2 separate regions of the Homo sapiens genome follow, and region 1 is linked to region 2. A link means that fine-mapping ties the variant in region 2 to the expression of a gene that starts in the linked region. Tissue or cell type: sun-exposed skin. Region 2 holds a variant in brackets; the other region holds the start of a gene. All regions are shown on one strand. Distances are from middle to middle.

Region 1 (8,106 bases), 49 kb after region 2:
TTATTAAGCACTGGAGAGTGCCATCTTCTCTGCACTATCCTACCCCCTGGGGATTTGGCCCTGAGCCCCATTATGACCACCCAACCCAACAAGACTGCCTCTCTCCCTCTCTGAGGTGTGGCCAAGATGACCACCTCTCGGGTAAGGTTTATATTTGGAAAGAGCACAGATCTCTTCAAGTGGAAGCTTTTGGGAATACAAGTGTATTGCCTAGATTTCATGTATGCACAAAACATGGAGGAGTTGGTTTAGTGACAATACTAGTTACAAAAAGGCCTATTTTTTTCAGACAGTTGGTGGTTTTGACTGACTCATAATTATCAAGCAGTCACTCCTCTTCCAGCCCCCAGTTCCCATGCAAGGATGCATACAATGGCAGGTCCTGGCCCAGAGCTTCTCATTCTGCAACTGAGCCTCTGTGAACTGCTATGTGACAGTCAGGGAAGGGAGTGACTAGAAAGACACCAATTTTGTTGCTGAATGGAAAGAAACTTCTAGTAGGTGTTCTTGCTTATCCTCATAAGTTGGTGATCATGATGATAATGATGACCATGACAATGATAGCTGTGTCTGTGCTGTATTTTGGAGCCTATGTAAAGTACTATTATATAATTTATCTCATAATGATGGTGGCTTTCAAAGCTTTTACATGGGCCCCCATGTCCATGGACTTTGGGCAGATTATTCAGTCTTGTTTAACAATTCCACAAACAATAATGAGAATTAAAGTACTCAAATTTTAAAGAATTAGATAACAAATATGAAAAGATAATTTACAAAAGAAATAGAAGTGATTAGTAAGTATATGAAAATGGGAAGAATCACAAATATAGCCAAGTTAAAACAACTAGAAGCCATTTTATCCCTGAGATTAGCAAAAATGAAAAATTAAATAACCAGTGTTTGTATACTGGTTTTGATTGCAAATGATGGAAAACCTAGTACAAAGTGGCTTGAAAACAAATGAAATCTATTGGTTCAGGAGCCAAAAAGCCCATGGTGAATCTGGCTTAAAAAGTAACTGCACATTGTGCTCAACTGATAGCATCAGTGGACAATATGTCTCCTTCCACTTGCTCCAGTCTTGGTGTTACCATTACTCTCAAGCTCCACGTAGTAGCAAAATAGTACCAACAACTCAGGCCTGTGTATTGTCTTAAGTTTCAAGTCAAATTGGAAAAAAAAAACATAAGAGTCTTATTTCTAGATGTCTAAAGAAAAGCTTCATTGCAAGACGTTGGCTCTGATTGGGTCACCACAGCCAGGAGGATGTGTGCACTTTCTGGTTCAGCAGAAGAATCAGGGTCACCAGAACCACATGGACCAAAACTGAGAGGCAGTAGCTCTGCAGAAATAAATTAGGACACTGTTTCCAGAAAGATAAATATGTCAGGATGCAAAGCAACAGAAGCCTGTTAGAGTTGGCCTAAGTGGGGTAAATGAGCACTCTTATTAGCTGGTAGAAAAAGTCAACTATGGAGTAAACTTTCTGAAACCTAATTTCATGATACCACACCACAAAACCTTCAAAAATATTCACACCTTTGAATCTAGTATTTTTATTTCAAAAATTGTATTCTACAGAAATAACTGAATAAGAGCATAAGAATGTGCACACAAAAATACCATAAAAAGAGAAGAATAGCAAGCTCCAAAATATATTACTTATTTGCACCAAAAGATAGCTATAAGTGGAAAATGCAAGTCAAAGAGTGTCCACAGTTAATAACTCTTTTTTGTGAAATGTGCAAATAGGTATATGTAGAAAAATATCTGAAAGACTAAATAAAAGATGTTTAACGATGACTGTTTCTGAATTTGGGGACTACATGCAATATGTAGTTTCTAAATTTTTGCTTACTTACATCCCTGATTTTCCTAGCCATAATCATGATTTATTTTGCCAAAAAACAAAACAAAACAAAAAAATGAAAAACCCCCTGTAGTTGGCTGTGGTTCCCAGTGTCTCTGGCTTATGCTCCTTCTCACCTTTCAGTGGGTTTGCACATGGGTTTGTAAATTACGGTTTAGAAGAGAAATCAGGGTTGAGGGACAGACACAGGGGAGTTGTGATTTAGGGGGAATAAAAGTCTTTTTTCCTGGAAAAAAAAAGGTCTCTTTATGAATGTAAACCTTACCTATAGATGTTTATTGTAGCCATACATCTGAGGAAAATTAAATACTCATTGTTGTGTGGCCCTCTTAAGTCACCATAGACCCAGAATCATGCCTTGTGGGGACACAGAGAAAACTCCCTCTGTAATGATTAATGAAATGTCCAGAATCATTTTTATTCTCCAAAAATTAATGAAATTAATAGAGAAATGAGATCTAAATCTGGTGTTGAAAGCTATTCACCTAGAACTATCCAAATGCATGGTTTGCTAAGTTAAATTTAAACCAGTTACTTTCATTTTTGAAATGGTTCCCTAGCGGTCCAGAGTAAAACTATGTATGGTGTTCCTAACAGATACTTGGATTGGACCCAGACACTATAAAATGCCTAGCACTCTTTTGAATTTTCAGATAAAGTTTAATTTTTTACTGTTGATAATAAAAATAGAGGACTAATTTTTTTTTGTTTCAAGTTTTGCTTTGCAGAGTGTCATCTGCGAACAGAAGTTTTTGTTAACACAAGTCCCAAGACATTCCTACTTCTGAGCTCCTTCCTCTGGTCTGCAACATATGTCTACAGCAATATACCTGACAAGTGGTCCTTGTTGTGGAACATTAAATAGACACGTGTCCTGAATCATCAGGGACAATCTCCACCCCCGAAGCTGTATGTTCAATAGCTTTCTCCAGGGGTGGTGCCACTTGCTTGGCTACTCCTGTCTTAGCCTGAATTCCATGTTTTATAGATAATTCACTTACCACAGGAAACTGTAGCAAACAAGGAAATGAAATAAGTTGCTTGCTTGAATAAAATCATTCTAAAAAAGAAAACAATACATAACTCTGCTGGTTTTAGACCACATTTAACATAAATCTTAATTTAAGGTGATTTAGATTTTCTTGTAAATGTCTGAATTGCAAGACAAAGCACACAATTACTGGTATAGAAAACAAGGGTTTTTTTTTGGTACATTTGTGTCTAGGGAGTTGGAAAATTTATAATGCTTCCCAAGATACAAATTGAGACCTCCAGACTACTGTTGTGTTTATTGTTCATTGGCCAACTCTGTGGCTAGTAATGTTGGAAAGGGAATTGGTAGAGAGAGAGTAAACAATTATGAAACCTCTTGATTTGGGCAAAAACAAAATTAATAAATAATGGCAATAATGTCAGTCCAAAAATCCCTAAGTAAAGAAAACCTCTGAAAATATTAAAGCCCATTTAAAAATTTTAAATCAATCAAATATTCTTTCTGATTTAAAATCATCTTACATTTAAATATTTCTACATAAAGGAACATTATCTATACTCTCTACATACTCAGGAAATTAGAATATAAATGATTAATTTTCTCATAAAGTAAAAAATTATACTTAAAAATTATAGTTTATTTGGAAACAATCAGAATAATAAAAATTTGCTACCTGAAAACACAATTGCTTCTTGGAGGTGAGTCTCTTGTCACTTAAAAATGAACGGTCTTCAAGCTGTTCTAATGTGGCACTGCAGGCAATATTTTGCTTGGCTTCAATATTGACTTTGGGTTTCTGCCAACAGTTTCAACTTTTTGTCCTGTCAACATATTCCATGAACATCCTATCCGTGTTCAGCTGTTAAGTATATTAACTATTTCAGGGAGTGATGTCAGCAAGAATAGGAATAGGAGTTTGTCAGAACAGGAGTTTCTAGCGCTCATCCCTTGCAGAAACATCAATTCGAACAAGTATCCATGCACGAAAATAACTTCACTAGAGCTAAGGAATCAGGTGAGAGGTTATGCCACCTGGTTGCAGCACAGAAATAAGAAAAGACACATAGAAGTGTATAGGAAGGACAATTTCACATTACCGGTGTCATCTCACCTTCAAGCCTGGGCAGCACAGTATGGAGAGAGATGCCCTCTTGCATGGAGGAGGGACAGTTAAGATAGAACCTAACTTCACCACAGATCCCAAGCACCAAGCCCACTCCAGTAAACCCCAGCACCAGGATTCAGGCCTGCCACAGGCCAGACCAGCCTCTGTGGCCTCAGCCCCATGCTCACCCCAGACCAGGTCAGCCCCTGGGGCTTCAGGCTCCAAGATGGCCACACAAAACCTAGACTTCAGGCCTGCTCCAGCTCTAGCCTGGCCCCCAAGACTCTATCTAGCCTCCACGTTAGCCCCAGCAACCCCAGGCTCCAAGTTGGCACCCATGGGCCTAGAATCCAGGCCATCCCCTGCAGATCCAGCACCAGGTCAGCCTCCAGAGATCTTGGCTCCATGCTGGGCCATGTGGACCCAGATGCTGGGCTCACCCCAGTGGACCTTGTTCCCAGGACAGCCTGAATAAACTCAGGAACAGGCCTATCCCCATGAACTCAGGTGCCAGGTGATCCCCATGTTAGGCTGGCCCCTGCAGACGCAGGCTTAAGGCTCATTTCAGTGCCAAGTCAGCCCCCAAGGATCCATGCTTCAAGCCAGTCCTTGTGCACAGAATACAGACAACCACAGTGAATGAACCCAGAATCCAGCCCTTCCCACCTTAGAACTCCAGCAGAAATCCTGTGCATAGACCCCAACAGACAGCCCACCAACAATCTCTGGTCAATCTGACTAGTGAATGGCTTTCTCTGCTGAAGCTAGTATGTAAAGACTGAAATAGGTGCCTACTTCAGTGCAAGGCCACACTGATCACAAATAATCGGGGAAACAAGAAACCACCAAAGGAAGGAAATAAAGCAGCAGGAGGTGACCCTAAAGAAATGGAGATCTTTACTGCATGACAAGAGCTAAAAATAATTGCCTTAAGAAAGCTCAATAAGCTACAAAACAATATAGATAGACAGTAAACAAAATCAGGAAAACAATACATGAGCAAAATTAGAAGTTCAACAAAAAGATAGATAGGAACCATAAAAAAGAATGAAACAGAAATTCTGGAGCTAAAGAACAAAATGACTGAATTGAAAAAATTCACAAACAGCTTCAGCAGCAGACTAGATCAAGCAGGAGAAAGAATCAGCATGCTCAGATACAGGTCATTTGAAATTACCCAGTCAGAGTAATAAAAGGAATGATAAAAATTGCAGAAAGCTGACAAGACTTATAGGACACTGTTAAGAAAATTAATATGCATTAGAAGAGTTCCAGAAGAAGTAGAGAAAGAGAAAGTTGCAGAAACTTATTTAAAAAAATAAGAATAGAAAACTCTCAAAATTTGGAGACATAAATGAAATAAACATCCAGATTTATGAAGCCCAAAAGAACTCCAAATAGATTAAATATAAAGAGATCCTCGGCCAGGTGCAGTGGCTCATGCCTGTAATCCCAGCACTTTGGGAGGCCAAGATGGGTGGATCATGAGGTCAGGAGATCGAGACCATCCTGGCTAACACAGTGAAACCCCATCTCTACTAAAAATACAAAAAAAATTTAGCCAGGCGTGGTGGTGGGCACCTGTAGTCTCAGCTACTCCAGAGGCTGAGACAGGAAAATGGTGTGAACCCAGGAGACGGAGCTTGCAGTGAGCCGAGATTGCGCCACTGCACACTGCACTCCAGCCTGGACAACAGAGCTAGACTCCATCTAAAAAAAAAAAAAAAAAAAAGAAATCCTCACCATGACAAAGAGAGAATTTTCAAAGAAGCAAGAGAAAAGCAATTCTTCACATACAAGGGAAGCTTCATAAGATTATTGGTGGATTTCTCAGCAGAAATCATGTAGGCCAAGAGAGAGTGGGATGATATATTCAAAGTATTGAAAGTACAAAACCTGGCAACCAAGAATATAATATCAGGCAAAGCTGTCCTTCAGAAAGGAAGGAGACAAAAAGAATTTCCCAGATGTATTAGTCCAGTTTCACACTGCTGTAAAGATACTACCTGAGACTGGGTAATTTATAAACAAAAGAGGTTTAACTGACTCACAGTTACCCATGGCTGGGGAGGCCTCAGGAAACTTATAATCACGATGGAAGGCAGAGGGGAAGCAGACACCTTCTTCACAAGGTGATACGAGAGAGAGAGTGTGTATGTGCAGGGGAAACTGTCACTTTTAAATCCCTCACTATCATGAGATCACAGCACAGGGGAAACCACCTCCATGATCCAATCACCTCTCACCAGGCCCCTCCCATGTAATCCCATGTGGGGATTACAATTCAAGACGAGATTTGGATGAGGACACAGAGCCAAACCATATCATTCTTCCCCTGGCCTTTCCCAAATCTCATGTCCTTTTCAGATTTCAAAACCAATGATGTCTTTCCAACAGTCCCCCAAAGTCTTAACTCATTCCACAGTAACCCAAAAGTCCGAGTCCAAAGTCTCATTTGAGACAAGGCAAGTCCCTTCCCTCAATGAGCCTTTAAAATAAAAAACAAGTTAGTTACTTCCAAAACACAATGTGGGTACAGGAATTGGGTAAATGTTCCCATTCCAAATGGGAGAAATTGGCCAAAATAAAGGGGCCACAGGTCCCAAGCATATGCAAAACCTAGCAGGGAAGTCATTAAATTTTAAAGCTCCAAAATAATCTCCTTGGAGCCCCTGTCTCACACCCAGGGCATGCTGATGCAAGGTGTGGGCTGTTAAGGCCTTGGGCAGCTCTGTCCCTGTGGCTTTGCAGGGTACAGCCCCTACGGCTGCCTTCATGGGCCGGCACTGAGTGCCTGCAACTTTCCAGTCAGTGGATCTACCATTCTGGCATCTGGAAGATGGGGGAACTCTTTTCACAGCTCCACTGGGCAGTGCTCCAGTGGGGTCTCTGTGTGTGGGCTCCAACCCCACAGTTCACCTCTGCACTGCCCTAATAGAGGTTCTCCATGAGGGCTGGGTCCCTGCAGCAGGCTTCTGCCTGGACAGCCAGGTGTTTCCACACATCCTGTGAAATCTAGGCAGAGGCTCTCAAAGCTCAGCTCTTGTTTTCTGTGAACTCGCAGACCCAAGAGCACGTGGAAGCCACCAAGGCTTGGGGCTTGCACCCTTGAAGCGACAGCCTGAGCTATGGACCCTTTTAGTCACAGCTGGAGCTGGAGTGGCTGGGGCACAGGGCACCAAGTCCCAAGGCTGCACAGAGCAGCAGGGCCCATGAAACCATTTTTCCCTCCTAGGCCTCTGGGCTTGTAATGGGAGGGGCTGCCTTGAAGACCTCTGAAATGCCCTGGAGACATTTCCCCATTGTTTGGCAATTAACATTCAGCTCCTGATTACTTATGTAAATTTCTGCAGCCGGCTTGAATTCCTCCTCAGAAAATTGGTTTTTCTTTTCTACCACATGGTCAGGCTGCAAAATTTCCAAACTTTTATGCTTTGCTTCCCTTTTAAACATAAGTTCCAATTTCATACCATCTCTTTGTGAACGCATATGACTTGACTGTATGCTTTCAGAAAAAGCCAGGTTATATTTGAATGCTTTTCTGCTTAGAAATTTATTCTGACAGATACCCTAAATCATCTCTCTCAAGTTCAAAGCTCCACAGATCTCTAGGGCAGGGGCAAAATGCTGCCAGTCTCTGCTAAAGCATAGCAAGAATGGCCTTTGCTCCAGTTCCCAATAGTTTCTCGTCTCCATCTGAGACCATCTCAGCCTGGACTTCATTGTCAATACGACTATCAGCATTTTGGTCAAAACCATTCAACAAGTCTCTAGGAAGTTTCAAACTTTCCCACATCTTCCTATCTTCTAAGCCCTCCAAACTGTTCCAACCTCTGCCTGTTACCCAGTTTCAAAGTTGCCTTCACATTTTCAGGTTGTCTTTATAGCAGTACCTCACTCTGCCAGTACCAATTCTCTGTATTGTTTATTTTCACACTGCTAAAAGATATCACCTGAGACTGGGTAATTTATAAACAAAAGAGGTCTAAATGACTCACAGTTCCTCATGGCTGGGGAGGCCTCAGGAAACTTACAATTATGGTGGAAGGTGAAGGGGAAGCAGGTACCTTCTTCACAAGGCAGCAGGAGAGAGAGAGAGCATGTGCGCACGGGTAACCACCACTTTTAAACCAT
Region 2 (8,086 bases):
ATGCAGAACTCTCAGTTTACCTGGGATGCTGTGCCTGCAGCTTTGTAGACTGAAACCAGAAAGAGCTTTGCTCTTTTTAATGCGTGTACTGGGCAATCCACTCTCAGATGTTTTAAGGAGACAAAGATTTCTAACAAAAACAAAAGGGAAGTAGAAATATATCATATCAAACACATAAAAACATTTTTACAGCACCTAGAGAAAGTAAAGTCAGCTCATGCTAGCACTTAGTTGTGAAGATTTTCCTATTTTGAAAGTACTCTTCATAAACCACGGAGTTACACCCATAAACCATGGAGTCACACTCCATGGCCCTTAGGTTGCAGACAAATTTTCTAACTAAATCACCTCCATAAAAATTTTCTGAGCTTGCTCTATTGTCAGTCTTCCTAGTATCTTCCCTTTTCATTTCCTTCCTTTCAACACTCCCAGCCTATCTTAAAGATTCAAGAGTCTTCATGCTACCTAGAAACCTCCTATCCAGGGTTGCAATAGGTTTATAAGGAGATGGGTGAAGTCCGTCGTTTACTCCACACCCTGGAAGCATCTTCCTGGAAAAGAGTGACTTTTCCTAAGTAGACAAAATCACAGTCTAGAGCAAGACTGTCCATAGATCTTTCTGCAGTGATGGAAATATTCTATGCCTGTGCCATCCAATACAGTAACTGCCAACTACATGTGGCTATTGGGCACTTGAAATGTGGCTAACACAGCTGGGAAGGTGAATTTTTAGTTTTATTTAAAATTTTTTTTTTTTTTGAGACATAGTCTTTCTCTTGTCACCCAGGCTGGAGTGCAGTGTCGCGATCTTGGCTCACTGCAACCTCCGCCTCCCGGGTTCAAGTGATTCTCCTGCCTCAGCCTCTTGAGTAGCTGGGATTACAGGCACATGCCACCACACCTGGCTAACTTTTGTATTTTTAGTAGAGACGGGGTTTCACCATGTTGGCCAGGATGGTCTCGTACTCCTGACCTCGTGATTCACCGCCTCGGCCTCCCAAAGTGCTGGGATTACAGGCGTGAGCCACTGCACCCAGCCAGTTTTATTTAATTTTAATAAATTTAAATTTAAATTGCCAAGTTTGGGCTTATAGAAGCCATGTTCCTATCACATACTGTATTAAAGATCAAATGTGTTATTCCTATTCTAGGAATTGGTCAGTAAGGTAATAAGACAAAGAAAAAGAGCAGTGACTAGCACAAAATTACAAGTGACAATGACATCTTTCTTATTTCTAAACTTCCAATGTCCCAAGGCTTGATCTTTGGACCTACTTTCTTCCCTCTCTGCATTTAACCCTTTGATAATTTCACTAGATTTTTAAAAAGTATCAGCTGTATATTGGTGACACCTAAACACAGATGTCCACATAAACCTCTCTTCTGAATTTGACTTCTATTTCCAGTTGCCAATTCAACCCTTTGCCCTAGATGAGCCAAGGGCATTGCTTCTCCTACACTCTGCTGCTTGCGAAATCCTCCACATTCTGTCATTGACATTTCCATCTTTCCAGTTCCTTGGGCCAAAAGTCTTGGTGCTATCACTGACTCCTTCACAATCCGTGGTCCAACCTATCAGCAAATCTTATTGGCTGTCTGCTGATAACACAGATCGATCTGGTCACTTCTCTCTCATCTCCACTCTGGTCCAATAGGCAAAGTTTTTGTCGATTTAGTTCACTAAATGGTATCCCCAGCCTTCAGAACAATGCCTGATACATAATAAGCACCAAACAAATTCTACTAAATTTGTTTAGTAAGTGATGGTAACAGATATATTTTCATGTGACAGACCCGGTGCTTCTGAAATGACAGCCTCACTCAGTGGAAAGTGAGGCTCATGTGATAGGCAAGGCACACAGGGCCTCCCTTGGCTGAGTTGTCTGGAGGACAACTTTTCATCAACAGGAGGCCAATCAGGCAAGTGCTGAGGGCTCTGAGAGTTCCAATTCAGAGATATATACAAGCCAGGTTTTAAAGCTGACTTAATTTTACGGATATTTGTTTGCTTGTTTAAGTGAATGTTGTCAATGAGGAATAGCAAGCTGGGCATAGTGGCTCAGGCTTGTAATCCCTGCACTGTGGGAGACCAAGGCAGGTGGATTGCTTGAGGCCAGGAGTTCTAGACCAGCCTGGCCAACATGGCGAAACTCTGTCTCTACAAAAAAACAAACATTAGCTGGGGGTGGTGGTGCACACCTGTGGTCCCAGCAACTTGGGAGGATGAGACGGGTGGATTGCTTGAGCCTAGGAAGTGGAGGCTGCAGTGGGCTGAGATCACACCCAGTGCAACCAAATCTGAGTGACAGAGCAAGACCCTGTCTCAAATAAATAAATAAATAAAAGAGGGACAGCAACCTTAGCTAGTGTACTTTTGATAATCAAAGAAATTTTCCATGCTGTTTCTGATGTCCTATGTTAATTTCCATTGGTAAGGAAACAGGGACTCAATTCTCAAACCTCCCTCCACCACCACCCTAACCCACTTGATGGAGACATTCATTTCCACCTCTCTCTCTCTCTCCACTTTGGGTTTGACATTTCACTGACATTTTCAGCTCTTTCTGTTCCTGGTTCAATTATTTTAAACAAAGCATTGGACTGAATTGTCTTTTAGTTGTCATGAAATGGAAATGGAATCTCTTCATTTCATTTAGAACTAGACAACTGCCCCTTTGCCAAGGTGGAGACCTCCAGCAATCCCACTACTGGGTACATAGCCAAAGGAAAAGAAAGAAAAAAAAATCATGTCACAAAGATACCTACACTCACATGTTTACTGCAGCACTATTCACAATAACAAAGATATGGATCAACCTAAGAGTCTATCAGCAAATGAATGGATAAAGAAAATGTGGTGTATAGAATATACTATAGAATGTTACTTAGCCATAAAAAAATCATAAAATCATATCTTTTGCAGCAACATGGATAGAACTGGAGGCTATTATCTCAAGTGAAACAACTCAGAAACAGAAAGTCAAATATTGTAGATTCTCACTTTTAAGTGGGAGCTAAATAAAGTGTACACAGGCACAGAGACAGTGGAATGAAAGCTATTGGAGACTCAGAGAGTTGGGAGGATAGAGGAGGGTGAGGCAGGAGAAATTATCTAATGGGAATAATGTATACTATTTGGCTACACTGAAAGCCCAGACTTCACCACTACACAGTATATCCATGTAACACAACTGTACCTGTACCTAAAATTTATTTAGGTGAAGTAATATTTATATTTATTTTAAAATTTACTGGCCGGGCACGGTGGCCCAACCCTGTAATCTCAGCACTTTGGGAGGCCGAGGCAGGTGGATCACCTGAAGTCAGGAGTTTGAGACCAGCCTGGCCAACATGGTGAAACCCCATCTCTACTAAAAATACAAAAAAAATTACTGGGCGTGGTGTCCCATGCCTGTAGTCCCAGCTACTCAGGAGGCTGAGGCAGGAGAATCGCTTGGACCTGGGAGGCGAAGGTTGCAGTGAGCTGAAATCATGCCACCGCACTCCAGCCTGGGCAGCAGAGCGAGACTCCATCTCAAAAAAAAAAAAAAAAAAAAAAGAGTCCTCGGTAATGTTGGGTTTGTGGTAAGTAGGTGGGGAATAGAAAGGGAGAGGGGCTAGAAATTCTTTGCAACTTTTATCCTATACTGACATTTAGAGTAAATTTTTAGTTACTTGGAATTTTTAATGATGGATTTTGATCAGCTATTTTTAGAAGATAACAAATTATCCTTACTTGTTAACTCCTTACCTTTGAGATTCTTTGGGCCATTCCTGGGAAAAGAAGGTAAAAAACAAGCAACCGGGATGATGAGTGCAGATTCGGCCACAGACAAAAGCATCGGGAGCCATGACACTGTCGATGTTGCTGTCTGCAAACACCGTATTAGGGAAAATGTCCCTAATACAAGCTGCGCGACGGAAGAACTATGTCAGGGACTCAATTCACCAGCTATCAGGAAAATTCCGGTCACAGTATGTGTAAATTCCATATTAAAAAATTTAAGTGTATCCCAAGATCTTTTAATTTTTTTTTATTTAGAAGAAAATGGCATGATTATTTTAAACTGGAAATTTAAATAGAGGATCTAACTGTATAGGACATGATGAAATCTATCACATGAAGAAGGTAAAGATCTTTGGGTCCGTTTCATCGTGAGCATAAGCTGGTATCCTGAGTGAGATCTACTGTAATCATCAGCATATTTAATGGTTGAATTACATCATCAAGAAGTCGATAATTACCCAGATTAGAAAGTGCACAGGATTTCAGTGAAAATCCAGACACCACTTTATCGAGCTTCGTTATTCTGGTTGGTGTCCCTGTTTGGGTGTGCTTCAGTAGACAAATGTTACTGAATAAAAAGAAAAAGGAAAAGTGTCTTATTCTTCCAACTGCAAGGAGGAAAAAACATGAGATATTAAGAAAGTCCCCTTTGGAGAGAGGACCTGCGAGACCCCGAAGCATCCATCTGGGAGGCTGAATGGCTGGGCATGGTCCCAGCAGTGTTGCTAAGCACCTGTGAATTGTGTAAGTTTATTTCTTCTTCAGTATAATGACAGCTTGAGAGAGTGACCACATGAAGAAGGAGAGTGCATGAATGAATGACTTCTCAAGCCCTTCTCATTTTTTGTTTTTTTTTATTTGAGACGGAGTCTCACTCTGTTGCCCAGGTTGGAGTGCAATGGCACGATCTTGGCTCACTGCAACCTCC[G/A]CCTCCTGGGTTCAAGCGATTCTCTTGTCTCAGCCTCCCAAGTAGCTGGGATTACAAGCGCCCACCACCGCGCCTGGCTAATTTTTGTATTCTTTTTTAGTAGAGACGGGGTTTCACCATATTGGTCAGGCTGGTGTCGAACTCCTGACCTCAGGTGATCTGCCCGCCTCGGCCTCCCAAAGTGCTGGGATTACAGGTGTGAGCCACCGCGCCTGGCTAAGTCCTTCTTACTTTTAATGACTTAACTTTATCTTGCTTAGAAACCTCCAATTTCTTGTCTTGCAGTTCACATTCTGTTAAGTCTTAGACATAAAAGCTGTCGTCTGAGCTGAGCTAAAGATAAGCCTTACAAGTCAAATCATGAATTTAGGGGTTTGGTGTGTGTGTTTTTCACCACTGTTGTTTTTGAAATAACTCGTTGATGCTTTGTTTGCTTTCTGTTCACTCCTCTTTGTGAATGTGGAGAGCAGAATGTTAAAATCCAATGTTAAAACGCAAGTATTAGTAATTTGAATGTTTTTCACTTTTCTGTTGATTCCAGATAAATGCAGTTTACTATGAAAATCTAAATCATCTCAAATATTTCTGAATATACAAATTAATAATCTATTTCCCTAGTAAATTTTTAAAGATGAGAACACAGATTTGGTTATTAGAGATCAGATAATTTTTAAATCCTTATGTGATAGATTTATCCTTGAAATATTTCAAAATCCAGTATGGAGCAGGATAAGACTTTTTACATGAGTATTTTGTCTTAGGTAAGGAACTGTTATTTAGAGAGAGAGAGAGTAGGTTTTTATTTTTATTCTGTTAGACTGTAACATTTTTTAGACTGGGAAGGGCACTGACAATCATACCAATTGCAGCTGTTTCAAAAGTGCCAATTTAAAAGTGTAGCGCTTTTGAAATTAGCCAAGTATATATATTTTTCTGACAGTGTTATTAAAAGATAGACTCCTTACCATAAATGAAATGCATCCAAATTAGGCTTTAAGTGTATTTTTCATGAAGAAAACTAGGAGTACTATTATAGAAATGTCTTTTAGGGGTTCAAAATAAATTCTGGCATAAAGTTGATGGCAAAAGCTTTTTAGTAAATCACGATTCTGTTTTTCATCGACCACTCGAATGTCCTGGGACTCACTCACCGATGCTCCAGGCTGGGAAACTGCCTTGTGGCGTACGTGAAAAAGTGGCAGTGGACGTCATCCGTGCATCTTTCTTGGCATTCTTGAGCACTCTTGGCAACTGAGCTGTTATAGTTTATGCCCTTCATGTCTAGGTCCACATAAATGTCTTTGTTGCAAGCTGGAAATAAAAGCAGAAGACATGAGTACCTTCCAGATTCTAGGGGCAATGACCTAAGCAACTGTCCCTCCTGACTCATCCTTTCAACTTTTTCACCCACCTTTCCTCAGAGGTCTTTCGTTATATTAATCTGCAAAATTCTTATTCTTGAATGGAAGCAGTAAAAGAATGCCAATGTCCTTCTTACACTGTAACAATTTTAGACTTGTAAATTCACATTTTGATTTTCTGACCTAGCCTCTCTTCTCCCTAACTGCACTGATTATTTCGCTAATTAACTGATTCAAGTATCTATTCACTATTAAGACAAGTGTCACTTCAACCTTTATATTTGCTCCTTTCAATTTGGATTAATACGTTTAATAAAGAATTTCGACTGGGCACCATGGAATCCCGGCACTCTGGAAGGCCGAGGCGGGCAGATCACTTGAGGCCAAGAGTTTGAGACCAGCCTGGGCAATACAGTGAGACCCTGTCTCTAGGAAAAATGAACAAATTAGCTGGGAATGTTGGTGCATGCCTCTGGTCCCAGCTACTCCAGAGGCTAAGGCAGGAAGATCACTTGAACCCAGGAGGTTGAGGCTGGAGTGAGCTGTGATTGCACCACTGCACTCCAGCCTGGACAACAGAGTGAGACCCTGTCTCAAAAAAAAAAAGACTTTCATTTAAGATTTTAGGCTGGGAAATAGAAAGAATATAAATAAATGATGGGAAGTGAGGTAGTAAGATATGTCTTTCTATGAGGTAAAGAGGTTTTTACAGTGTGTTGGAGGGCAGGCATGTATGTATACTAGTTTATACTCTACACTGAAAGAACTTCATTAAGGGGGTTTATTTCCACATAGCAGTGTTTCATTTCATAGCCTTAAAACCACATCCGATGTGGCGATATGTGTACATCACAGCTGGTATTTGTTGATTCTGAGAACATATCTTACCGCTTATTTGGTGTGAGCATTGCTTGAAAGAATACCCAGAAATCGCTGCTGTCCTATTCACTCTTGGCAGTGTTTCTGTAACACTGTCTTTCAGGACACAAGTAAACCTGTTTTTTTAAAAAATACATATTAATGAATAGGAATTTATGTTTTTAAAATAATGGATCTTAAAAGTCAGCACACAGAAAGCCAAAAAGAAGGAAACAAACTACTTTATCTCATGCCAAAACAAATATTTTCTTAGCAAGATTCTGAGTTTGTTTTTTACTTCAATATCCCTACACTTAAGAGACTGCATGTAATACTCCTTTCTAATAGGAACAAACAGGAATGTGTCAACTAGGACCTGTTGGTAAAATGCAACCAAAAATCTGTGTGTTTCTGTTTAGCCTGTTAGCTATACAAAATGATTTTTATATTTTCAAATTGTTACATTTTAAGTGGTGACATAAATACTTAAATAATATCCTTGGCTTTACTGTGGGTTTTGCCCACAAAGCCTAACATATTTACTCTGCGTTATTAAGAAGACATTTGCCAATCCCTGCTCTAGGTTCTGGAATAGTAAATTTTATAAGTTCTGGGTGCTACATAAATGCCTGTGAATGTAGCAATAATAAAGATGTTGAAAACTTAATTCTACAGAAAGGCTTATTATTAAATTTTCAAGCTCAGGATGGGAATACAAATGGTTGGTGGACTGTTTAAAATGTTTTAAACCTGACAAACCACCCAATGCAGTGAGTGACTCTTGGTAAGATTCTGGTTAATTACTATAAATTATATTTGAGGGAAAACTGAAATAATATAAAGGAATTCTTGTTAAATTTCGTATGTCTTTTGTGTAGGATAGTGCATGCTGAAGTATTTAGGGGTAAAGTGTCATGTTTTAAAATTATTTCAAACGGTTAAACATGTATACAAATATAGGTATTGTATATTGTATATTGCTGTACAAATATAGCAAACATTGCGGTTTTGGTGGTGGCAGGGGGATCACTGTACTGTACTTTTTTTCAAATTTTCTTTTTAAATATTTTATTTTTTTCTAATAAAATAGTTGGGAGAAGTTCCAGTTTGTTGAGAAGCACGACAAAAATTAATAATCGATAGAAAAGCAAA

Evidence for each region. PIP is the estimated chance that this variant, and not a neighbour inherited with it, causes the effect.
Region 1: it holds the start of KLKB1, and the variant in region 2 is fine-mapped to the expression of KLKB1 in sun-exposed skin (GTEx, PIP 0.93).

The regions. Positions count from the first base shown.
Region 1 is chr4:186,223,022-186,231,127 of GRCh38, reverse strand. It overlaps KLKB1 (kallikrein B1), which reads right to left and starts at 3,621. Exons shown (of 15, transcript NM_000892.5): 1 at 3,541-3,621; 2 at 2,875-2,933. The coding sequence starts at 2,932. RefSeq lists an enhancer at 4,444-5,114.
Region 2 is chr4:186,272,056-186,280,141 of GRCh38, reverse strand. It overlaps F11 (coagulation factor XI), which reads right to left. Exons shown (of 15, transcript NM_000128.4): 4 at 6,965-7,071; 5 at 5,867-6,026; 6 at 4,246-4,355; 7 at 3,752-3,911; 8 at 21-130. Among named protein-coding and RNA genes, the nearest start is that of F11, 9.9 kb to the right of the region's middle. The variant G/A (reference allele first, on the strand shown) is at 4,716.